Regions from separate parts of the Homo sapiens genome. Here all the other regions are linked to region 2. Evidence: fine-mapped expression QTL. A gene starts in region 2. Each other region holds a variant in brackets. All regions are shown on one strand. Distances are between the middles of the regions.

Region 1 (5,227 bases), 240 kb before region 2:
GCTGGAGTGTATACTCCATTTTGAGGCTGGACTTTGGCAGACTGAGGAATTTGAACACTCCCCTGAAGGTACTGGGGAGCCACAGAAGGGTTTTGATTAAGTGAATGACATATTTTTAAAAGTGTTTTAGGAAGAGTAATCAGGCAGCAGTGGGGTCTGGCAGGACAGCCTTACAGTGATGGAGGCATGAGGATGGGAGCAGTGGGAATGCAAAAGGTGCAATTTCAGAGGAAGCTCTGCCCAGAGACTGAACCAAATGGAATCCTGAATCTCAAGCAGAAAAAAACCACATTAATTTGCTAAACCCGAACCATATCTAAGAATTAGCTTTCTTTTCCTTCATGGTTCAGTGAAAAAAAAAAATTAAATGGCTGCTGGAACCACTCAAACTGAAACCAAGTATATATTATCTAAAATTATTGAATATTTTAAAACAAACTACTATCCTATTCCCATATTGCGGTTTGTGCCTACAAAGTCTTAATACTGGCCAGGGACAGTGGCTCATGGCTGTAATCCCAGGACTTTGGGAGCCTGAAATGGGAGGATAGATTGAGCCTAGGAGTTCGAGGCCAGCCTGGGCAACATGTCAGAACCGCATCTCTACAAAATTTAGCTGGGCATGGCAGTGTGAGCCTGCAGTCCCAGTTACTTGGGAGGCTGAGGTTGGAGGATCACTTGAGTCAAGGAGGTTGAGGCTGCAGTGAGCCATGACCATACCACTGCACTCCAGCCTGGGTGACAGAGCAAGACCCCATCAAAAAAAAAAAAAAAAAAAAAAAAGAAAGAAAAGGAAAGAAAAGAAGGAAGGAAAAAAAAAGAAAAAGAAAAAACCCAACCAACCAAACAAACAAAAAACAAAATAAAGTGTTAATACCTTTAAGAACAGGGTTCAAAGGTTTGAATTGTGTTGCCAGAGGCTGGCTCTTAGAAGGAACAAAATGTAGCTACATATTTTAGTGGAGGCTTTTATTATATGTTGGAGTACTGCTTTCATGCCTGTTGGCATTACATCCCCCGGGCTCAGAGAAGTTAAGTAAAGTAAGTAACCTAAGAGTAAGAAAGTAAGTTGCTAGAGTCAGCATCTGGTGACAGAGCATAGATGACAGAGCCAGGATTCGAACACAGTCTGACTTCAGAGTCAGCTATGGCATACTGCCTGCCTATATATACTACTAGTCCACCCTTGGTGTTTTAGGAGGCAGGCAAACATAATTTGGGGGATGTCAGAAGTTGACTCCCAAGCTACAAAGGTGCTCCTGCAGTTCCACACTCACCCATACACACAGGTCTGTCCTTTTCAGAGAATAGTCCTTGTACAGCTGTCCGTTTTTGGGGGCAGTAAATAATCTGTGCATCCTCCCTGCCCTGTCCCCAGGGCCTAGTACAATGCCAGCTAATAGGAGACAATGTATGCTTATGCATGGGCTCTTGAGATATGCTCCTGAAAATACTGAAATCCAATTCAAACTCTGATTAATTGAAACTCCCTTAAAATTCCACTATGGGCCAAGTGTGGTGGCTCACACCTGGAATCCCAGCACTTTGGGAGGCTGATGTGGGAGTATCTCTTGATGCCAGGAGTTCAAGACCAGCCTGGCCAATATAGTAAGACTCTGTCTCTACAAAAAATATTTTTTTAAAAAATTCCACTACGGAAGCTTACTATTAAAAACAGTGGGTCTCAAACATTGATGAACTTGTTAACACAGATTCTTGACCCCATCACCAGAGATTCTACCAGATTCAGTAGGACTGGGGCTGGGCCTAGGAATCTGCATGTTTAACCATCTCTCTTTCTCAAAGATACATGCACAGATACACGCAGAGACACCCACAGGCACACACAAATAATGCACTGATACAAACAGGCAGGCACACATAGACACAAACACAGATGATTCTGATGCAGTCTGCCCTGTAACCACACTGACTTCACCTCCTTAGAGAAACACTGACTTTAAAGAATCTGAAGATAAATTCATCTGTAAAGTTTAAGTCTTTTCATATGTGAATAGTCCCTCTCTGATTCATTTTGGAGATCAGCCTTTGATTGTTTTTCTGTTTTCTTTTTTGCATTCTTATAGCAGGGGAGTCACATGTAATAATCATCCTAATGCCAGGGCGTTTCGTTGTGACTTTAAGTGTTTTAGATTCGTGATGAACTCCAGTGGCCAAGTTGTAAACTAGTTTGTGACATCCAGGAGGACAGGAACTTTCATTTAATTAATTCCACAGGTATTTATGTAGCACCAACTGTGTGTCAAGCACAGCAGTGAGCAAAATGAACCAGTTCCTGCCCTCATGGAGCTCACGTTCAAGTTGGGGAGGCAGACAATAACGTAGTAGACACATCAGTAAGTTATTTTCATATGGGAATGAATGCTACAGAGAAATTAGAAAAGGGTGATGTATTGCTTAGCTCGGGCTGCCATAACACGATACCATAGACCAGGTGGCTTAAACAATAGAAATGTACTTATTTCTCTCATTT[C/T]TGGAGGCTGGAAGTCTAAGATCAGGGTGCCAACATGGTCGAGCTCTGGTGAGGGCTCTCTACCTGGCTTGTGCCACTTCCCCTCTGTGCTCACAGTGACCTTTCCTTTCACATTCAAGTAGGGAGGGAGAGAACGAAAGTCGGGGTCGGGGGTGGGTGGGGGAGGGGCGTGGAGTAGGGAAGTCAGGGGAGAAGGAGGGAAAAAGAGGAGGAGGAGGAGGAGAGCGAGATCTTCCTTTTCTTATAAAGCCACCAATCCTATCCGATTAGGACCCCACCCTTGTGGCCTCATTTAACTTTAATTATCTTCTAAAAGCCCTATCTAAAAATACAGTCACATTGGGGGATAGGGCTTTAACACATGAATTTGGAGGGACAAAATTCATTCCATAGCGGATAATGTGATAGAGAGCGACAGGGCTGGGAAGGGGTGTCTTTGGACAGAGTGGTCAAGAAAGGCCTCCCCACGGAGGCGACTTTCAGGTTTTGTGTAGCAACTCAGCTTTAGTTGTTTACCAGGACATTGGTTTTTATTTGTTTGTTTTTTTGTTTGTTTTGTTTTGAGAGGGCACACACTGAAGTCTTTGAAGCCTGAATTCAGGTCCCAGTTCTACCACTTACGACTTGGGCAAGTTCTTTAACTTCTCTGTGCTTCACTTTCTTCATCTGTAAAATGTGCATGGTGATAGTCCCTATTTGATAGGATACTGTGAGGATTTGCAGAACTTTCTGCAATGATGGAAATGTTCTGTAACCTGCTCTGTCCAGTATAGTAAACACTAGCCACATGTGACTATTGAGCACTTGAAATGTGGCTGGTGAGACTTACCAACTGAATTTTTCTTTTTACTTAATTTTACTTAATTTAAATTTAAATAGCCACATGTGGCTAGTAGCTACCACATTAAACAGCACAGATGCAATGAATTCACACATGTGAAATGCTTAGCACTGTGCCTGGTACATAGCAAGTGTCAATAAGTGCTATCTAGGATTAGTGTTAGTGGTGGTTACAAGTATTTTTCTGGCAGGTAGGAGTTTTTTTTCGGGGAGTGGGGATAAACAATCACACTTTGATTTATTATAGTACATGGCTATGATGTCTCTTACTGTAGCTCCCCACCTGCCCACCTGTCTTTTCACTGAGCTGTATGGTAGCCCAATCCCAGAGTTGGGGAGGGGGCTGGGGAGGACAGCCTGCTCCCTGGGGACTGACTGGAGCATGCTCCTCCCTGTCCAGCCGGGTGGAGATCACTGGTGGGTACTACGAATACATCGATGTCAGCAGTTGCCAAGATATCATCCACCTCTACCACCTGCTCTGGTCTGCCACCATCCTCAACATTGTTGGCCTGTTCCTGGGCATCATCACTGCCGCTGTCCTTGGAGGCTTTAAGGACATGGTAAGGAAAGAATTGACTTTGCATTTCACAGTGGCCCCTGTTGGACATAGGGGGAAGGCTAGGCAGTTGGGGGAAATGCAGACACATATTTTGAAGGGAAGAATCAGAAGCAATTGCTTCAAGGATGTAGCTGCCTTCAAATGTCTCAAGTTGAAGGAGCCAGGTAATGTCATCAGTCTGCAAATATTTCTTGTTATACACAAATTACCTGTGTTCTGGAGGCACCTTCTAGGGGTGGGGGGTGAAAGGAGGAAGGGGTGTTCTCAGTTCCCCCATTCGCACTGGTTATGTAAACATAGTCTTTTATAGCCCCACCCCACACTTTTAGTAAAATTTTTTGGGAATAGTTTTCCCCTAACAAACTTTGGGAGAGATGGAAGGAAAGGTTATTCTAGCTATAGGTAGGATTAATGCTAGTCTTCCCCTCCCCAGGTATTTCATAGTGAAGTTTCTTCAGAAAGAGCATCTGGGCTCTTTTCTGTTTGCATTCGCAGAGCCAGCTCTAGGCTAAGTTGCTTGCCAGGTCTTGCCTTCAACTTGGACCTCAACCTCAGCCTCCCCACTTTCCATTCTTCCCTTCCAAATCTTTTCTATTTGTGTGTGTGTGTCTGCAAAGGCACAGCAGGACTCAGCATTCAGTAGGTACTCCATATAGTAGGCTTCTTTTTTTCCTTTCCTTCTAAGGCATTTCTAAGCATTTATTTGTTTATTTGATAAATCTAGATCTCTAATTATGGAGATAATAGCTTTGAGTTATGGTTATCAACCTGGCTTCATATAAGAATCACCTGCCCAGCATGGTGGCTCATGCTTGTAATCTCAGCCCTTTGGGAGGCCAAGACAGGAGGATTGACTAAGCCCAGGGGTTTGAGACTAGGCTGAGCAACAGCCCCTGTCTCTATTAAGAAAAAACAACTTTTTTTAATTAGCTGGGTGTAGTGGCACATATCTGTAGTCCCAGCTACTTGGGAGGCTGAAGTGGGAGGATCACTTGAGCCCAGGAGGTTGAGGTTGCAGTAAGCCATGATTGCACCACTGCACTCCAGCCTGGGTGACAGAGTAAGACCCTGTCTCTAAAAAAAAAAAAAAAAAAAAAAAAATGCTTGGGCTCCTTCTCTAAAGATTCTGATTTAATTGGTCTAAACTGAAGCCCAGGCATCAGGTTTTGTTTTTTGGTTTTTTGGTTTTTTTTTTTTAAGCTCCCAGGTAATTCTGATCTGCAGCCATGATTGAATACCACTGCTTTAAATGAACATCCCACATCTGTTTATGGAATTATTTTGTGCCTAAGAGGGACTTTCCTTTGACCCCAGAAATTAGCTCCTAGGCC
Region 2 (5,227 bases):
AGATGGGGCCTGGTGAGAGGCGATTAGATCATAGGGGCAGATTTCCCCTCTAGTTTTGTTCTAATGATAGTGAGTAATCATGACATCTGGCTGTTTAAAAGTGTAGCATCGGCTGGGCATGCCCTCAGCCTCCCAAGTGTCTGGGATTACAGGCACTTGCCACCATGCCCCGCTAATTTTTGTATTTTTAGTAGAGATGGGGTTTTACCATGTTGGCCAGGTTGGTCTTGAACTCCTGACCTCGTGATCTGCCCACCTTGGCCTCCCAAAGTGCTGGGATTACAGGCATGAGCCACTGTGCCCAGCCTAGTCTCTAGCTTTTAACTGGATCTCAGCTCTGGGCAGAGCCCACGCTGAATCCTGGATCTCCAAAAGATAGAATTATCATGATTCTAGACCATGTGATGCATTTGCACTGCACTTTGTTACAAAGACTTTCCTCTAAGTGTCTAAAGTATACCTTTTCTTATCTTAAACACCCGAAGAGTAGCCTCTGTTGTAATAACTTAGTCCAAAAATCAGGTAACACAGTACAAAAGCAAGCAGTTTAAGATCTGAGAGGAACTTGTCTGTTTAGACTCTTGGGGTTCCATAAGGAAAAACAGATGTTTCTCCTCAAAAAGGACTCTAGTGCCTTCTCTGTTTTATTTAAGGAATTACAGGCTGTTAGAAACTATTTTGGGTCCCTCATGCAGCAGAGGGGAACAAGAGAAAGGAGAGATAGGCAGAAGTAAATGGAGAAAACAGAATTCATTTGACTGACTGAGAAGGAAAAAACCTTTTTCTCAAAAAACAAGGTACTAGGAGAGAAAAAAAAAACAGGCCAGGCACGGTGGCTTACGCCTGTAATCCCAGCATTTTGGGAGGCTGAGGAAGGCAGATTACCTGAGGTTGTCGGGAGTTTGAGACCAGCCTGACCAACATGGAGAAATCCCATCTCTACTAAAAATACAAAATTAACTGGGTGTGGTGTCGTATGCCTGTAATCCCAGCTATTTGGGAGGCCGAGGCAGGAGAATTGCTTGAACCCGGGAGGTAGAGGTTGCAGTGAGCCAAGATCGCACCATTGCACTCCAGCCTGGGCAACAAGAGTGAAACTCCTTCTCAAACAAACAAAACAAAACAAAAAACCATAAAGGCCTTTTAAATATACACACACACACACACATCGTGGATATTAGCTTTTAATTAAACTGACTTTTAGCCACTAAGCTCTTAAAAAATTCTTCTAAATCTCACTACCCTATTTTAGCTGGAACAAATTGCTGATATTTCAAAAATAACACAAATATCAAACCAGAAAGAACTTGATTTAGGAACCAAACCCAGGCTGTTGTGGTGGAAAAAAGGGCAAAACCTTAGCTACAGAACTGCAGTGTGGAGCACAGTTTGGCTTGGCTAGCAAAAGGTGGCCTTGTTATGTAAATAAAGCCCCTCAGGTAGTCAAAATCTTTCTTTTTTCCTGTTGATGGCTGTTTATCCTTTTCCCTTTTCCCCCCCAGCTGCAGGAATTTACCCAATGCAGAGGCGTTGTTCCTCACCATTTGTAACTTTCCTTCACATTTGATATAGTTGGGTAGAGTTAGTCAAATCCAATGGGAAAAAGACCAAAACAACAAAACAAACAAATAAATGAAAAAACAGTTTGGCAAAACAAACAAATGATCATACTATGTATACAATTCCTGAGCACTCTAATGGTAAGGAGAAATTAAGAGCTGCTGGTTGTTAATCTTAACTTTAGGTCATTAAGGAGAATTTTCAAGATAAAACCCCAATTCAGCTACTTACCTAGGAATGGAGTCCAGGCTCAACACTGCTCTCTACCAGCCTATAAGCAGGAAAAAAACTCCAACTCGCCTTCCCTGTTGGAATTGAGCTGAAACTCCAGAAAGGAGTTGCCTGCCCTCCATCATCATGGAAGCAGGAAAACTCACCTTCCTTGTTGAAAGTGAGTAAAACTCCAGAAAAGGAGTTGTACAGCAAAAAAAAACCTTAGATATCGACCAAATTTGGGGAGATCAGGGTGAGGGAAGAGACGGACCCTCTCATATTGTTTTATATTGTTTTATACTCAGTACCTGTTTTAAGAAAAAAACAAGGAAGTGAAACCAAGGGCAGGCAGCCAGGCACCAGACCCAAAACCAGAACTGAAACCAGGCCTGGGCCTGCCTGGCCTAAACCTAGTAGTTAAAAATCAACTCATGACTTAGCAACCGATGTTATCCATAGATTCCAGACATTGTATGGAAGAACGCTGTGAAACTCCCTGCTCTGTTCTGTTTCACTCTGACTACCGGTGCATGAAGCCCCTGTCACATACCCCCTAGATTGCTCAATCAATCACGACCCTTTCATGTGAAATCTTTAGTGTTATGAGCCCTTAAAAAGGACAGAAACTGTGCACTCGAGGAGCTCGGATTTTAAGACAGTAGCTTGCCGATGCTCCCAGCTGAATAAAGCCCTTCCTTCTACAACTCAGTGTCTGAAAGATTTTGTCTGCAGCTCGTCCTGCTACAAGGGATTGTCTGGAGGGGGGAAGTTCCCAGGCCTCAGCAAATCTGCCTATTGATTTGAGCAATAAAGATATCTCAAGCTGGTACCAAGCAGTAATAGAAGATTTGTCAAAGGTCAGGGGCACCTCCACTCAGAATCCCTTGGTGGTTACCAATTTGTAAACCAAAAAGTATCTGAGCTAGGTCTCAATTAACTTGGAAATTTTATTTTACCAAGGTTAAGAACATGCATCTGGAAGGCAGGTCTATGCCTTTTTCCAAAGAAGATTTTGTGGACTTCAGTATTTAAAGGCAAAAGGGCAGATATTGGGGGAAAAGGAAAAAAAATTAAAGGTGTGGGTAGATAACAGACAAATGGTTGCATTATTTTGAGTGTTTGATAAACCTTTCACTGAATACACAGTTTACATGTGAGAGAAGGGTAGAGGAATAGTTACTTATGCCTTTGTCAGCTCAGTGAATCTGCATTTTTACATTAGGAAAGCAATCAGATATGCATCTGTCTCAGATGAACAGAAGGATGACTTTGAGTTCTGTTCTTTGTCTAGAACCTGTGAAGATAAGCTATCAATTTACATTGTCAGGGTAAAATTCAACAGAACCATTTTAAGGTAAACATCTTGGGGCTCAAAAGGAATGTCCCAGTGGACAAATTGTGAGACATGTATGTAGCTTTTTTTTTTGTTTGTAGCTATCTTATTTAAGAATAAAATGGGAGGTAGGTTTGCCTGATGCAGTTCCCAGCTTGACTTTTCCCTTTGGCTTAATGATTTTGGAGTCCTGAGATTTATTTTCCTTTTACAAGACATTACCATTCCAAAAGAATGAATATGGGAGGCATAAAGTGGTTTCTTGTCCCAAGTAAGTTCAAAATTTAGCATGGCAGGGCCAGGTGTGGTGGCTCACGCCTATAATCCCAGCACTTTGTGATGCTGAGGTGAGTGGATCACTTGAGGTCAGGAGTTCGAGACCAGCCTGGGTAACATGGTGAAACCCCCCTCCTCGTCTCTACTAAAATACAAAAATTAGAGGGGCATTGTGGTGAGTTCCTGTCATCCCAGCTACTCAGGAAGCTGAGGCAGGAGAATTGCTTGAACCTGGCAGGTGGAGGTTGCAGTGAGCTGAGATTGTACCACTGCACTCCAGCCTGCGTGACAGAATGAGATTTCATCTCAAAAAAGTAAATAAATAAATAATTAGCATAGCTAATTCCATTAGATTTCAAGGCCTAGGAACAATCCTCTTTAGCTCAATGTTCTGCCATCTGGTCTTGCAGTGATCCACCAGCTTCTGTGCCACCCTCATAATTCACTCTTCCTTTTTCTTGAAGGCTAATGTGTCTTTGCAGTCTAGTAGCCCTGTCAGCTCATATCCTGCCTATAGATTTCCAGAAGTCCAACAGTCTTCCTTCATTTCATCCCATATCTATCTCCTTTACTCCAAGATGCCAGTATTTCTGTTGATATAACATTCTCAAAATCCTTATCAGTCTCGTGTGTGTTATGGGAGTCCATGTCATTAGACAAGATCCTTCCTGGATAAACCCATCTCTATTCCTGCCTTCAGCTGATATGGTTGATTGGATCCATGAATCACATATATAATCTCTTTAGCAAGATTGTCCAGCCATACTGTTGGCCTTCTCTTCAGAGTATGCTTTTGCGACAATAAATTTTCTAATTTTGGCATCCTTTGGAATCACGATAGGCTGAGAACCTCCAAAATCAAGTGCTAGTTACTTTTTGCCTAATAGTTCTTTCCTCAATTTATATCTTTCACATTGAAATGGGAGAGTTCACTGACCCCCCTTGCAGGGCCTGCAACAGGGGTGTGGCTCGTCTGTTTGGCCACTGCATGCTCAAACCCCTTATGGGAGGGGGAGCACGCATTTGAGCTAGGGCAAGCACTTTTGGGCTCTGGGCCTACAGCAATATCCAGGGATGTTACAATGCTCCTTTAGCCCTGCCATCCAGGGACAGCTTAAGTGTTAAACAGCTCAGTGCCCTCTTGGTACTGGGTTCCTGTCCAGCATCCAGGAAGAATCAGGTCACACAGACAAATTGAAGGATGGTAAATGTGGCGTATTTTATTGCTGGATGGAGGTGGCTCTCTGCAGGATGGATGGGGAGCTGGAAAGGGAATGGAGTGGGAAGATAATCTTCCCCTGGAGTTCAGTCGTCCCTTGGCTGATCTCCTCTCCTACCGTCCCCAGCCTAACTCCTCTTGATGTTCAGAAGCTCCTTCTCTTCTCTCCTTCTCTGCCACACCACTCTTCTGTTCCTCTGCTCTTCTGCTTGTCTGCTCATCTGCTTGTGGATCCTGGGGTTTGGAGTTTATACAGGTACAGGATACAGGGGCGTGGCAGGCCAAAAGGCAGCATTTGGGCACAAAAACAGGAACGCTTGTTCCCATTTAGGGCCACGGGTTTCCAGACTTGAGGGTGGGGCCTTTGCTGGGAAACCACCCTCTTCTACCCAGTATTTCCCTGTCTCCTGTCTGTATCAATATTACATTTTACTATAAGCAGCAAGGAGAAACCAGGTTATGAAGATAAGCTATCAATTTACATTGTCAGGGTAAAATTCAACAGAACCATTTTAGGGTAAAGATCTTGGGGTTCACAAAGAAAAATCTTAAGGATTTTGCCTGTAAATTTCTGCCAAATATCCAAGTTCATCACTTTCAAGTTCTGCTTTCCATGTGACTGAAGA
Region 3 (5,227 bases), 140 kb before region 2:
CAGAAATGAGCATGGTATATTCCAGAGATTCACTGTGAGTTTGTAGTGTCTAATATGGTTTGGCTGTGTCCCCATCCAAAATCTTATCTTGAATTGTAATCCCCATAATCCCAATGTGTCAAGGGCAGGACCAGGTGGAGGTAACTGGATCACGGGGGTGGTTTCCCCCATTCCGTCCTCATGATTGTGAATGAGTCTCGCAAGATCTGATGGTTTTATAAACATCTGGCATTTCCCCTGCTTGCACTTCCTCCATCTTGCTGCCCTGTGAAGAAAGTGCCTGCTTCTCCTTTGCCTTCTGCCACGATTGTAAGTTTCCTGAGGCCTCCCCAGCCATGCAGAACAGTGAGTCAATTAAACCTCCTTCCTTTATAAATTACCCGGGCTTGGGCATTTCTTCATAGCAGTGTGAGAACAGACTAATACAGTGTCTAAGAGCCATCACTCCAAAGAGCAAACTTTATTGCCATGGCGTTAGCTGAAAAACACTTAGGCTATTAGATTGAATGTGTGCTGATCCCTGAGACTTTCTCTAAATAGTTATATAAAGCAACACATATGGAAAAAACAGCTAAGCAAAGAAAAAGATTCAGCAGAGGAAAAGTGGCTTTCTTGGTTATTTATCTTTTCCTGCAATAAGTATGCAATCATGATTAATTCAAGTTCCCTCCTAGTGTTATTCTATTTAACTGAGATATTGATGTACAATATTAGAATGCTACCAATTGTGAGAGGGAACAAGACAGTTTGGGCATGGTGCCTAAATATCAGGAGGGTGTTAAAAGAGTTATTCAGAGTATCATTTTTATTTTGCCTATGGATTGAGTCTTTCCTATGGTTCATAGGGGAAAGAATGGTGAGAAGGAGCAGAGTGAGATGAATGAAATTTGATCTCTGTCGTTGGCTGTGGTTGCTACTCTTGGACAGTAACTCGATGACCATGAAGAAGACTTCCTCATTTCATCACATCCTGCATGTTGACTAGGATCACAGCTGGCAGCTAGTCTCCTTCCTTCCAGTTCAGAATGAATGGACTAAACATTTACTTAGTGGAGAGTTATGCAAAATTTTGATACTATAGAATGTGTTCACCTAACGGGTTGAGCCAAGAAGAGGCTCCTAAATCTAAGTCTGTATGTTAAATAAATAGAAGAGACGATTTAGCATCTTACAATATTTCTGTCGGACTCACTTTTGGAGTTGACCTTTTTGATGTGGCGGGTAGGCCTGTGGAATTTCTGAGAAATCCTTGGAAATTCTTTGTGCTTAAAATGAATAGAATCATATTTTGTGCTCCTTGAGGTGCTGGGGTTGGGGACCTGGGCCAGGGAAAATCAGATTGTGAAACCTCCACTCAGTCTTTACTTTCCTTTCTTCCTTATAAATAATTTCAATCCCACTGAAACCCCTTAATGTGACCAGATGAGTTAAAGGGAGGATAGGGATCAGAGGTAAAGAGAAATTGGTCTTACTGCTTGGCCTCGTGATGAGGGCTGTGGAAGGAGATGTTAGGGACTGATTTATATAGGGACCAGAGTTCTATTTTTCCTTTTTTTTTTTATGGTAAAGCCCAGCTGGCCAGAGCTACCTCCTTGTGCCCCACTGGCTATCTTCCAGAGGCAGTACCTAGCTGCTAGCCGCTGTTTATCGTCAAGCTCCCCACACCTCAACAACAGCTCCAGGCTCAGCCATTGCCATGGATTTCTTTCCTCCTATGTCTCCACAGACTCTTTCACCTTTTGATTTTAAAACATCCTTTGTTTAATTTTTTTGTTTCTCTCGTTCAAAGGGAATGGACAGAGACTCTTCCTTGTTCTCTGCCTTCCCTCCATTATTTTGCCTAAACCAAGATTCTTCGGCTTGAAATAAAAAATCATAATCCAACTCTGCAGTTCTCATAGAGGCCCTAGTTTTGTCTGTGGCCTGTGCTTTAGAGGGGTCCAAATGTATCAATTATGATGCTCACACCTGAATGCTACCTCTGAAATCACCTTTGTCCCCTTGCTTGTGTAACACAACAGAACGT[G/A]CTTTTAGAAGGGGTCTTTTGTATTACTAGATTCTAAAATATTGACAGAACAATTTCCAACCTGTTAGCCTGCTTTCTTAAAAAAGTTAATTCAACACCAAGCACCAAGCTAGTTATTGTTCATGTGTTGTGCTTCCAGCTTCAGGCACAGATTTGCAAGAAGATTGGGAGAAATGAGAGTTGTGAGGAGGGTACAAGTTGTATCACTCCCTCAAGGGCCTGTAAGAATGGACACCAAGATACTGAATGCCTTTAGGGGAGGTTGTTTACTATTCCTAGAGGTAAAATGGCCCAGTGCCATGATTGGGGAAGGGACTTGAATCTTCAACCCTTTAAGTGAAATAGTTCTGGGCTAGATAATGTGGTAGGTGCTGAAGAGCTGAACTTGGGCTGGTGTGTGTTTCTCTTAATTGAATGATCTCTGGCCCAGGGGAGGGCATGGCCATTCAGCGGCTGGCCTCTTCTAAGCTGAGCTATGTGTGTTCTCTTACGTAGGCCACTCCATTGCTCTGGGCCTGCAGAAAGCCCTCTACAGTGCTGTATAAAGGATATAGTCAAAAGCAGGTCAGTATAACAGAGTTCATTTTAGTGGAATTCAAATGTACCATTGGCCAAATCTCTACATCAGGATAACCGTGTTTTGGGTCCATATTCCCAATACTGTTTTCATAAAATAGTTTTAGTATATTTGCAAAAGGGAGGAGAGCATCTGCTAAAAGTTTCTTGGGGAAATTCATGCTATAGTTTGGAAATAGATAAAAACATACTTTGTTTTCACTTTAAAAAAAATCTTCGGCTGGGTGCAGTAGCACACACCTGTAATCCCAGCACTTTGGGAGGCAGAGGCAAGAGGATCACTTGAGCCCAGGAGTTTGAGATCAACCTGGGCAACATGGCAAAATCCTATCTCTACAAAGAATACAGAAACTAGGTGAGTGTGGTGCTGCATGCCTGTAGTCCGAGCTACTCAGGAGGCTGAGGTGGAAGGATCACCTGAGCCTGTGAGGTCAAGGCTACAGTGAGCCAAGATTGTGCCACTGCACCCCAGCCTAAGAGATAGAGTGAGACCCTGTCTCAAAAAAAATATTTTGTTTGGTTCATTTTCCCTCCAGAACTCCATAGAGGACTGTATAAATTCACATAAGGAGAAAAAGCAACTCACCAAACCTTAAGATGGTTTCTCAAAATTCCCAGACCCTGGTATACACACATATTCTCCCATACCAGGACACTGAATGCCTTTGGAGGAGGTTGATTACTTTCTTTAGAGGTAAAAAGGCTCAGGCTTAAGACAGAGCCTTGAGCCTGCAGGCCTTTGAAGGAAAGCATTCTGGGCAGGATGGACTTGGTAAGTGCTGAGGAGCTGAATCTGATATAGTGAGCACTTCCTGTATCTGGGTGACTGGGGAGCTAAGGAAGGGCATGGCCACTTAGAAGCTGGCCTTCTCCAGGGTGCAGTCTATATGTTCTCTTTTGCAGACCACTCCCTTGCTGTGGGCCTGTGTTCCTTCATCTGTAAAGTGAAAAGAGTAGGCTCGATGTTCCCTAAATTCTCTCCATTGTTTACGCAACACATCCTCCAGGAAGGACTCCCTAGCCAACACAGGTGGGACTGGGGACGAAGTGTGGGCTTGTCCCTTCAGATATCCCACCCTCAACAGACAGATTGTACCATAAGAGCAGAAAACATGCCTGGGTCATCTTTGTGACCCCATCGTCTAGCCAGGAGCTGGGAACAGAGCAGGTATCTCCAACAGTCTGTGTAATATATACATGAGAAACTGTTCAGGCAAGTAATCTTGACAACCCCTCTAGCAAAGTTCTGCTGTTCTTTTCAAACCTCTCCATTCACGAAATCAAGTGGTGGCTAAGACATGGTCATCAGATAACACTGAGCTCAAATCCTGGCCCTTTCAGGATCTTTGGCAGGTCATCTATAGCAGATGTTGTCTGTGTCCTACTAGATCTCAGCCATATGTACTTGGCCCAATTTGCAACAGCTTGATGCTTCCTCTGGGGTCTGAAGCCCCTCTGCCTGAACAGGGAAGGCTGGGGAATAAATGCCCCCAGGAGCAGCCCTCAACCAATGATTATTGGGAGTTGGTGGATAAATGCCCAAGCTTCCTTGCCCCTTAGACAGAATAATTACGAAGTGATTGTTCTACACTGTGAGAAGGTGATAAGCAGTCTGTACTAGTCCGTTCTCATACTATAAAGAACTACCTGAGACTGGGTAATTTATAAAGAAAAAAAGGTTTAATTCACTCACAGTTCCACAGGCTTAACGGGAAGCATGACTGGGAGGCTTCAGGAAACTTACAATCATGGCAAAAGGTGAAGGGGAAGCAAGGCATATCTTTTCATGGTGACAGGAGAGCAAAAAATTAAGGGGGAAAGTGCCACACACTTTTAAGCCATCAGATATTATGAGAACTCACTCACTGTCATGAGAACAGCAATGGGGAAATCCTCCCCCATGATATAATCACCTCCCATCAGGCCCCTCCTCCAATTCGACATCAGATTTGGGTAGGGACACAAATCCAAACCATATCGCAGTCCCTGACAGCCAGCACTGGCCTGGTACGCACAACTAGGTCTTGATGTTTTCCTGTTGAACATAAACAGTCTCACAGAGCACTACTGCCAGACAAAATCACTCTGTGATCTTGACGAAGTGAGAAAAAAAATACCACTTCATAACCTTGTCTAGGCATAGAAAAAACAAGATCACTGTGCAAATGAAAAAAGTACCAAACACGGAGTTCAACTTCCAGCATGACAGCTTGAGGAACTCTGCTGATGCACTCCCAAGTGAAAGTGGTAAATATTATTTTTAAAACAACAACTTAAAGCCCCTGGAAATGGTCCTAAGGGAAAACAGCAAATGAAGAAACGTCTTTCTAAGAGAACCTACAAAAATTCAATAAGAAAAGCAAGTCTGTGGTATTTGAATCACTACAGCTTCTTCCTTTTCCCCTCCCAGATCAGTAAGGCAGAGATTCTACTTCAGACTGCTGCAGACAAGAGCATAGGGCTCCCTCTCCCCTCTGGCTCCCAGCCAGAGGACTTTCTTCCCAAGAGGAGCAGCACTTCAGCATCATTCATACTGACACCAGCTACTTGTTTCTGAGGCTAAGTATCAGGTGAGTACAGCTGAGTGATGGTGGCTCATTTAATCTGCCGACTCTGTCCCCCAGT

Alleles and levels. Positions count from the first base shown, and alleles are read on the strand shown. Sizes are in standard deviations (SD) of each study's normalised expression. Not every link is listed here.
With allele G in place of A in region 3, the expression in prostate of the gene that starts at base 2,088 in region 2 is lower (moderate effect, 0.59 SD a copy in GTEx).

What was found. PIP is the estimated chance that this variant, and not a neighbour inherited with it, causes the effect. A credible set is the group of variants that fine-mapping cannot tell apart.
Region 1: its variant is the best candidate, but not a certain one, in a credible set for the expression of RHOXF1-AS1 in testis (GTEx, PIP 0.89).
Region 3: its variant is the best candidate, but not a certain one, in a credible set for the expression of RHOXF1-AS1 in prostate (GTEx, PIP 0.53).

The regions. Positions count from the first base shown.
Region 1 is chrX:120,275,555-120,280,781 of GRCh38, reverse strand. TMEM255A (transmembrane protein 255A) reads left to right here. Exons shown (of 9, transcript NM_001104544.3): 7 at 3,735-3,897. Among named protein-coding and RNA genes, the nearest start is that of ZBTB33, 27 kb to the right of the region's middle. The variant C/T (reference allele first, on the strand shown) is at 2,495.
Region 2 is chrX:120,033,097-120,038,323 of GRCh38, reverse strand. RHOXF1-AS1 (RHOXF1 antisense RNA 1) reads right to left here and starts at 2,088. Exons shown (of 5, transcript NR_131238.1): 1 at 1,792-2,088.
Region 3 is chrX:120,175,851-120,181,077 of GRCh38, reverse strand. No RefSeq gene overlaps it. Among named protein-coding and RNA genes, the nearest start is that of RHOXF2, 20 kb to the right of the region's middle. The variant G/A (reference allele first, on the strand shown) is at 2,027.